Linked DNA regions of Homo sapiens. The protein of the gene in region 1 purifies or fractionates together with the protein of each later gene. This does not show direct contact. Each region holds a gene or a part of one and is shown on either strand. Other genes may lie near its edges. The genes, in order: KLHL25 and FBXL17.

Region 1 (3,818 bases):
CCATGTTTTCTCTAGGTATATGAGTTTTGCCGCCTGTTGGCTGAGCCTTGAGTTCAAAGTACTGAACTGGGGCCTCGGGTCATGCCATTCACTGGACATTAATGACAGTGCTTTAGAATTCCCCTAGATTGAGCAAGTAGTGAACCTGTTTCTTGGCCATCACTCCATCACTCTGAGCGCCAGGTCCCCAGGCCTGGTGGAGAAGGGCAGGCAAGGGAGGCAGGGGAGGCGCTGCGTTGGCCCAGGATCCTGGCGTCAGCTGGGGGACCTGGGAAGCTCTGGCTTCGTGTTTCTCTGCTTTGCTGAGGCAAATCTGGATCACTTCCGTTAGGGTTCGGCATGTCCTGCTGTCATCTTGGGCCTCTGCGTTGGTCTCGAGGGTGAGTCACTGGCGGCCCCACCTCCAAGCCATCACTTGCCCCAGCTAGGTAAAGAGCCCTGTGGAGACACCTGGATTCAGAGAACATGTCTCCACTGAGCACTTGGGCCTTGATGGCGGCTCTTGTTCCAAGGCAAGGGGGATGTCTAGCCAGTACCGCTTGGAGCCCGGCCCAGGGCAGAGCCTGCTGGGAGCAGGGAAGTGGGTACGTGAGGCTCTGCTTGGGCGTCCACAGCAAACCCTGCAGGGATTAGTCACCTTGAACAGAGATCAGGCTCCAGAGCCGGACAGCCCATGTGAGAATCCTGGCTGTGGCAGTTTGGGTAGTTTCTTGGCCTCTCTGAGCTGTGGCTTCCCTAGCTCTAAAATGGGACTTACAAGAGAAGCTTCTGTAGAGGACTGTCATGAGAGTGGAATGTGGTCAAAGGCACCAGTTACTTAGCACTGCCCGGACACCAGCCTCAGTCAGGAACACCGTTTGCATGTTCTCTTAACCATGGGAGGCAGCCTCAACTGGAGCTTGCCTAGGGGGTGGCTCATCTGCAGGCCAGAGATGTTTGTCCCAGAGCTGGCTCATACCCTGAGAACAAAACCAGTTTCTGCAGGGCAGGGTGAGACCCAGCCACTCTTGCCTGTGTTGTCCTTGGCAACGTGGTTGCGGGAGAGGGGCTTGGTTTAGCAGAGGTGAGCAGAGAGTGGGTGGGAGGGGACAAGGGGGCTTGTGCTGAAGAGTGAGCCCTGAGAGGGCAGATGGGCAGGAGGGGCTCCTCTAACCTGTGGGCTTGTTCCCCCACAAGCTGACGCACCATGTCGGTCAGTGTCCATGAGACCCGCAAGTCGCGGAGCAGCACGGGGTCCATGAACGTCACCCTCTTCCACAAGGCCTCCCACCCGGACTGTGTGCTGGCCCACCTCAACACGCTTCGCAAGCACTGCATGTTCACCGACGTCACACTCTGGGCGGGCGACCGTGCCTTCCCCTGTCACCGTGCCGTGCTGGCCGCCTCTAGCCGCTATTTTGAGGCCATGTTCAGCCATGGCCTTCGGGAGAGCCGGGATGACACTGTCAACTTCCAGGACAACCTGCACCCGGAGGTGCTGGAGCTGCTGCTGGACTTTGCCTACTCCTCACGCATCGCCATCAACGAGGAGAACGCTGAGTCACTGCTGGAGGCAGGCGACATGCTGCAGTTCCACGATGTGCGGGATGCTGCCGCCGAGTTCCTGGAGAAGAACCTTTTCCCCTCCAACTGCCTGGGCATGATGCTGCTCTCGGACGCCCACCAGTGCCGCCGGCTGTATGAGTTCTCCTGGCGCATGTGCCTGGTGCACTTTGAGACGGTGAGGCAGAGCGAGGACTTCAACAGCCTGTCCAAGGACACACTGCTGGACCTCATCTCGAGTGATGAGCTGGAGACCGAGGACGAGCGGGTGGTCTTCGAGGCCATCCTCCAGTGGGTGAAGCACGACCTGGAGCCACGGAAGGTCCACTTGCCCGAGCTCCTCCGCAGCGTGCGTCTGGCCTTGCTGCCGTCCGACTGCCTGCAGGAGGCCGTCTCCAGCGAGGCCCTCCTCATGGCAGACGAGCGCACCAAGCTTATCATGGATGAGGCCCTGCGCTGCAAGACCAGGATCCTGCAGAATGATGGCGTGGTCACCAGCCCCTGTGCCCGGCCACGCAAGGCGGGCCACACGCTACTCATCCTGGGGGGCCAGACCTTCATGTGTGACAAGATCTACCAGGTGGACCACAAGGCCAAGGAGATCATCCCCAAGGCCGACCTGCCCAGCCCCCGGAAGGAGTTCAGCGCCTCAGCGATCGGCTGCAAGGTCTATGTGACGGGGGGCAGGGGCTCCGAGAACGGGGTCTCCAAGGATGTCTGGGTGTACGACACCGTACATGAGGAATGGTCCAAGGCGGCGCCCATGCTGATTGCCCGCTTTGGCCATGGCTCAGCTGAGCTGGAGAACTGCCTCTATGTGGTGGGGGGACACACATCCCTGGCAGGGGTCTTCCCGGCCTCGCCTTCTGTCTCCCTGAAACAAGTGGAGAAATACGACCCTGGGGCCAACAAGTGGATGATGGTGGCCCCCTTGCGGGATGGCGTCAGCAATGCCGCAGTGGTGAGTGCCAAGCTGAAGCTCTTTGTTTTCGGAGGAACCAGCATCCACCGGGACATGGTGTCCAAGGTCCAGTGCTATGACCCCTCGGAGAACAGGTGGACGATCAAGGCCGAGTGCCCCCAGCCTTGGCGGTACACAGCCGCTGCCGTCCTGGGCAGCCAGATCTTCATCATGGGAGGTGACACGGAATTCACAGCCGCCTCGGCCTACCGCTTTGACTGTGAGACCAACCAGTGGACGCGGATTGGGGACATGACTGCCAAGCGCATGTCCTGCCATGCCCTGGCTTCCGGCAACAAGCTCTATGTGGTCGGGGGCTACTTTGGGACCCAGAGGTGTAAGACTCTGGACTGCTATGACCCCACTTCAGATACATGGAACTGCATCACCACAGTGCCCTACTCACTTATCCCCACGGCCTTTGTCAGCACCTGGAAGCACCTGCCCGCGTGAGGAGCACCTGCTGAGCCCAGCCAGGTGAGTCCCTGGCAGCCCACGGCCACTCTGGGTCCGGAAAGGTCATGGGGGAATGCAGTCCCACCTCTTCCCACTGGGTGAAGGTCACCGTGTCTTCCAGGGAAGTCTGGGTGGGCAGCAGGTGGCTGGTGTGCTCTGGAGTCAAATCCTGGCTCTGCCTTCTATTTGCAGTTAACCTGGAGCAAATTATTGAACCAGTCTGCAAAATGGGGACAGTAACCATGGTTAGACCAACATGGTGGTTCCCAAACATGGTTATACTTCAGAATCACCCAGGGACCTTTTGACAGTGCTGTGTGGAGCATAGGTCAACCTGCAGAGTCTGAGGGTGCAGTCTCCACACAAGCCTGCTCTTACTTTTGACACCAGGTGCAACAAAGGGGGCCTCCCAAACCACCCTCGGTCAATTTTGCCAGAAAGACTTATAGAAGTCGCTGAAGGCTGTTATGCTCACAGTTACAGTTTATTATAGGGGAAAGATACAGATTAAGATAAGCCAAGGGAAGAGACATGTACTAAGGCAGAGTCCAGGAGAATGGCCCCCTCCCCATGGAGTCAGGACAGTGTTACTCTCCTGGCACTGATGAGTGATGATATGTATGAAGATTGCCAACCAGGCCCGGGCATGGTGGCTCATGCCTATAATCCCAGCACTTTAGGAGGGCTGAGGTGGGCAGATGGCTTGAGCCCAATTCAAGACCAGCCTGGGCAATGTGAAAGTCAGTCCTGGCCGGGCACAGTGGCTCATGCCTGTAACCCCAGCACTTTGAGAGGCCGAGGTGGGCAGATCATGAGGTCAGGAGATCGAGACCATCCTGGCTAACAAGTGAAACCCCAT
Region 2 (3,818 bases), on another chromosome or scaffold:
CTCTAAATTATCCATCTAGTCAACACATTTTGGGAACTATCATTCACCTTTATTGTCACAGAAATCAACTTATGCTATCTTAGAATGAGGAAATTATCAGAAAACCATTTCTCTTTTCTTTTTGATATTTGTGGCACTGTTTTCAGGGTTTTGATTCACAAACCAGTGCACCATAAACTGGTGCTGGGGTATTGAAATTTGTTTTCTGGGCTCCTTAAATATAAAGGTGGGCACATTTATCAAAGTCGGTAGAAAAGAGCCACATTCACCACTTGGTCGCTGTGATGGGGTGATGGGTTATGGGACTTTGCAGTGATTAGTAGTGCACATCATAGATTATGGGATAAGTGTCTGCACTTTAGTGGTGGTACAATGCTAAACAGCCGAGAAGACTACAGATACTCTCATAGTTTACAGACGACAGGCTTCATTTTGTATGTTAATAGAAGGAAGACTTCTGATAGGATGAGGAAATTCACCATAACAAATGCATTCTGTTTACTGCACTCTAGCATGGCACCAATTAAAATCAGCAGTATGTATGATGTACTCTTAATTCCTAACAGTCCCAAGAAGCGCTAATGTGAAAAATATTTTATACTTTTACATTTTACAGGTCATGAACAGATGGAAAAAATTATGCCAATTGGTAAAGACATTCACTTGCAGTATAACACTCCTCAAAATGGTGTTTACGTGGGTTCTTCTTTAAAAAAAAATTAAAGTTATCTTGGGTAAAATTAAGTTAGTACTTGGGTTTTTTTAAATGTTGTATCTGTAATACATTTTAATTTATTCCTTCTGCAGAGCTGAATGTTTGAAAGTACAGGTAACCTTGTAATGAATAAAACTGATAAAAGGTTGTGTTCAATGAAAGGGAAATTATGGAATGATTATTCACTTTGCAAATGGGTTTGTCATAGGGAAGCTTTCCTAAAGCATTTCAAATTTAGTTTAGTTTATAAAACGTTCATTTACACACAAAATTTCAGGAACAAATTTAGTGAGGAAATGAGATGAATAGTCATAATAAGATAGAGCTCCCTTACACTGCTAACATTAATGCTTTCTCTGCGTCCCTTCTTGCAGCACTGATAGCCATTGGGCGATACAGCATGACAATAGAGACTGTGGATGTCGGATGGTGTAAAGAAATCACAGACCAAGGAGCCACCCTGATTGCACAGAGCAGCAAGTCTCTGAGATATTTGGGGCTGATGAGATGTGATAAAGTAAGAGTTGACTATCAAGTTGTTTGCTTTCTACATATCAGTATAGTTAATAGCTTGATGTCATATCCTCTCTCCTTCTCTATCTCCACCCCCGTGTATTATATATTATATATACATTTTATATGTATATATGCAATTATAGCTATGCATTGTTTGCCTGCTTTTGTAAACTAATCTGAGATTATCTTTGTATTTCCCCACTTAATAATGAATTTTGTGCTTAAGTAGAAAGAAAAAGTAATCATATACATAGTCAACTAGAGTTTGGCATCCTATTCATAAGTCCATGGACCAAAATGTAAAAGATTACATGACAAACTGCAATTTGCAGGGTCTAACCGTAAAATTGTATTCTGGGTTTCAAGTTTCCAGCAACAGTAAAGGTGGAAAGAACAGTGCCAAATTGGTTTTTCACAAGTGTGTAATTTTGGTACTGAACATCTATGTATTCTGGCCATTCGGGACCAACAAAGGGCCAGTAAGGGGGTATGTGGGAATTTGCATCTCCCCATACATCAGATGCCACTCCCAGCACATGATAAGAAGTGGTTCCAGAGGTCCTGGTGGAAGGCCTGTAGAACCAGCCAGGGATGTGAGCATGAGTTTAGGAAATGGTGTAGCATTTAACGTGGGACCCTTTGAAGACTGAGAAAACAGATAATAAAAATCTATACTGACACCTGTAATCCCAGCACATTGGGAGGCCAAGGCAGAAGGATCACTTGAGCCCAGGAATTTGAGACCAGCCTGGACAACATGGGAAAACCCTGTCTCTATCCCCCTCTCCCCCAACAAAAAAAAATTAGCCAGGCATAATGGCACACACCTGTAGTCCCAGCTACTCGGGAAGCTAAGGTGGGAGGATCACCTGAGCTCAAGAGGCCGAGGTTGCAGTGAGCCGTGATTGTGCCGCAACCACCTCAGCCTGGATGACGGAGCACGACTGTGTCCCAAACAAACAAAAAAAACCTATACTGGACACCAGGCACTCCACAGGTGTTTTCTTCTTTGTTTATTCCATGTTTTACCTATAACAAGTCTAAGAAATAGTTATTTGCATTGTGAAGGGGAGAAAATGGAGGCTCAGAAAGACCAGTCAGTGGCCCCAGGATACTCTGGCAAGACTTCATGCCGGGTCTTTGGAGTCTGTATCCAGTGCTGCTGGCACAACCCAGGGGGCAGTCTGTGGCCACGGGGACTGCTTCCCTTGGAAAAGGTCCAGTTCAGATACTTGCTCAGAAAGTGCCGCCATCTTGTACTAATTTACACATGTGTGCTACTTTTGTAAATGGTGATTAGGAACAAATCTAGCAAAATAATGTGAAACTAAATAGACACGCCATTCAAAGGGCATGCATCTTCTAAATGTAGCAAATGTGGGGGCAAATGAAGTATGGCCCAAAGCTCTTGTGTCCTTTGTGATTTTTTGTTAATTGGCTAATTCTTTTCTCCAAACACTTTAGAATCCCAACTTATACGAGACCTTTGCCAGCTAGTTATGTTTAGAGAAATGTTATTATATATTCTCAGCCCAGCCCAGAAGCGACTTACTTTGTAACTAAGCAACAGCACTGAGATCCGGGGCTTGCGAGTCTCCCACAAATCTTTCCACTAACCAACCTAATGCCGCTGCTAACCCTGCCACTTTAAAATGACTTCTTTTAAGACAAGTTAAAGGGTCCACCATAGGCATAGTCCTCTAGAAACAGGAATCAATGACAGCAGAACTCCTCAGCTTCCAGCAGAAGGAACTGCCACATGAATGCTAACTAAAGCTACCAAAATGTACACATTCATACATATGTGTCCGCAGCCATTCTCAGAAATTGTCATATTTCTAACCTGTAATCTTTAGATGGTTAAGATCAGCTCCATCTTCGGAGATACACTGTAGAAGTTGTATGTTACAGTTACTACAGGAGAATGTTATTCCAGACATATTTGCTGACCAGCATTTTGCTGATTTTTAGTTAAGAAATGGGTTATTTTCTACCCAAATGCAAATTAGTCCAAAATTAAATAGAGACAGTATTCAGATTAGCTGTATCCCTGAGGGTTTTAGCCCTTTTCCTGGGCTGCCTCTGAATCCTTTCTCTAACCAGAGAGCCACTCTGAGAACCCATTGGCTCCAGCACGACGCCGTCTGGTCAGAGCCTGCTGCAGTGCAGCCCAGGGAGATGCTGGACCCAGCCTTGCTGTCTGGCTTCCTCAGACTTAAAGCAGCTCAGAGCCAAACACGAGAGGCTCTGTGAGGATGGAAGACAGTTCCAAACCACACACAAAGCACAAGTAAAGCCTTGCACAGAAAAGCCTGCTTGTTGGTTTAGTTGGATGGAAATCTAAAGTAGCTATTCAGTTTTCAGATTTTGTATCATGCCATCCATCTCCAGATTTTAAGTTACCATCAAGATTCAAAGGAAGATATGAGTAACAAAGAAAAGAAATTAGTAGCAACGGTATGGTCTGCGGAGAGCCAGAGTTCAGGTTCAGATCTGGGCTTTGCACTTACTAGTTGTGTCACCGCGGGCAGTTACTAACCTCTCAGTGCCTGTTCCCTCGTTTGCAAAATGAGGATGATACTAGTAC

Evidence for each region.
Region 2: the proteins of KLHL25 (region 1) and FBXL17 purify together in Homo sapiens (co-immunoprecipitation; one large-scale study listed by IntAct). This does not show direct contact.

Annotation. Positions count from the first base shown.
Region 1 is NC_000015.10:85,767,179-85,770,996, reverse strand, and holds part of KLHL25 (kelch-like protein 25), read left to right. Parts: intron 1-418; exon of another isoform or gene 419-501; intron 502-1,176; 5' UTR 1,177-1,186; coding exon 1,187-2,956; 3' UTR 2,957-2,980; intron 2,981-3,818. UniProt on the Homo sapiens protein: Substrate-specific adapter of a BCR (BTB-CUL3-RBX1) E3 ubiquitin ligase complex involved in various processes, such as translation homeostasis and lipid synthesis.
Region 2 is NC_000005.10:107,878,451-107,882,268, reverse strand, and holds part of FBXL17 (F-box/LRR-repeat protein 17), read left to right. Parts: intron 1-1,089; coding exon 1,090-1,232; coding exon of another isoform or gene 1,233-1,406; exon of another isoform or gene 1,407-3,818. UniProt on the Homo sapiens protein: Substrate-recognition component of the SCF(FBXL17) E3 ubiquitin ligase complex, a key component of a quality control pathway required to ensure functional dimerization of BTB domain-containing proteins (dimerization quality control, DQC).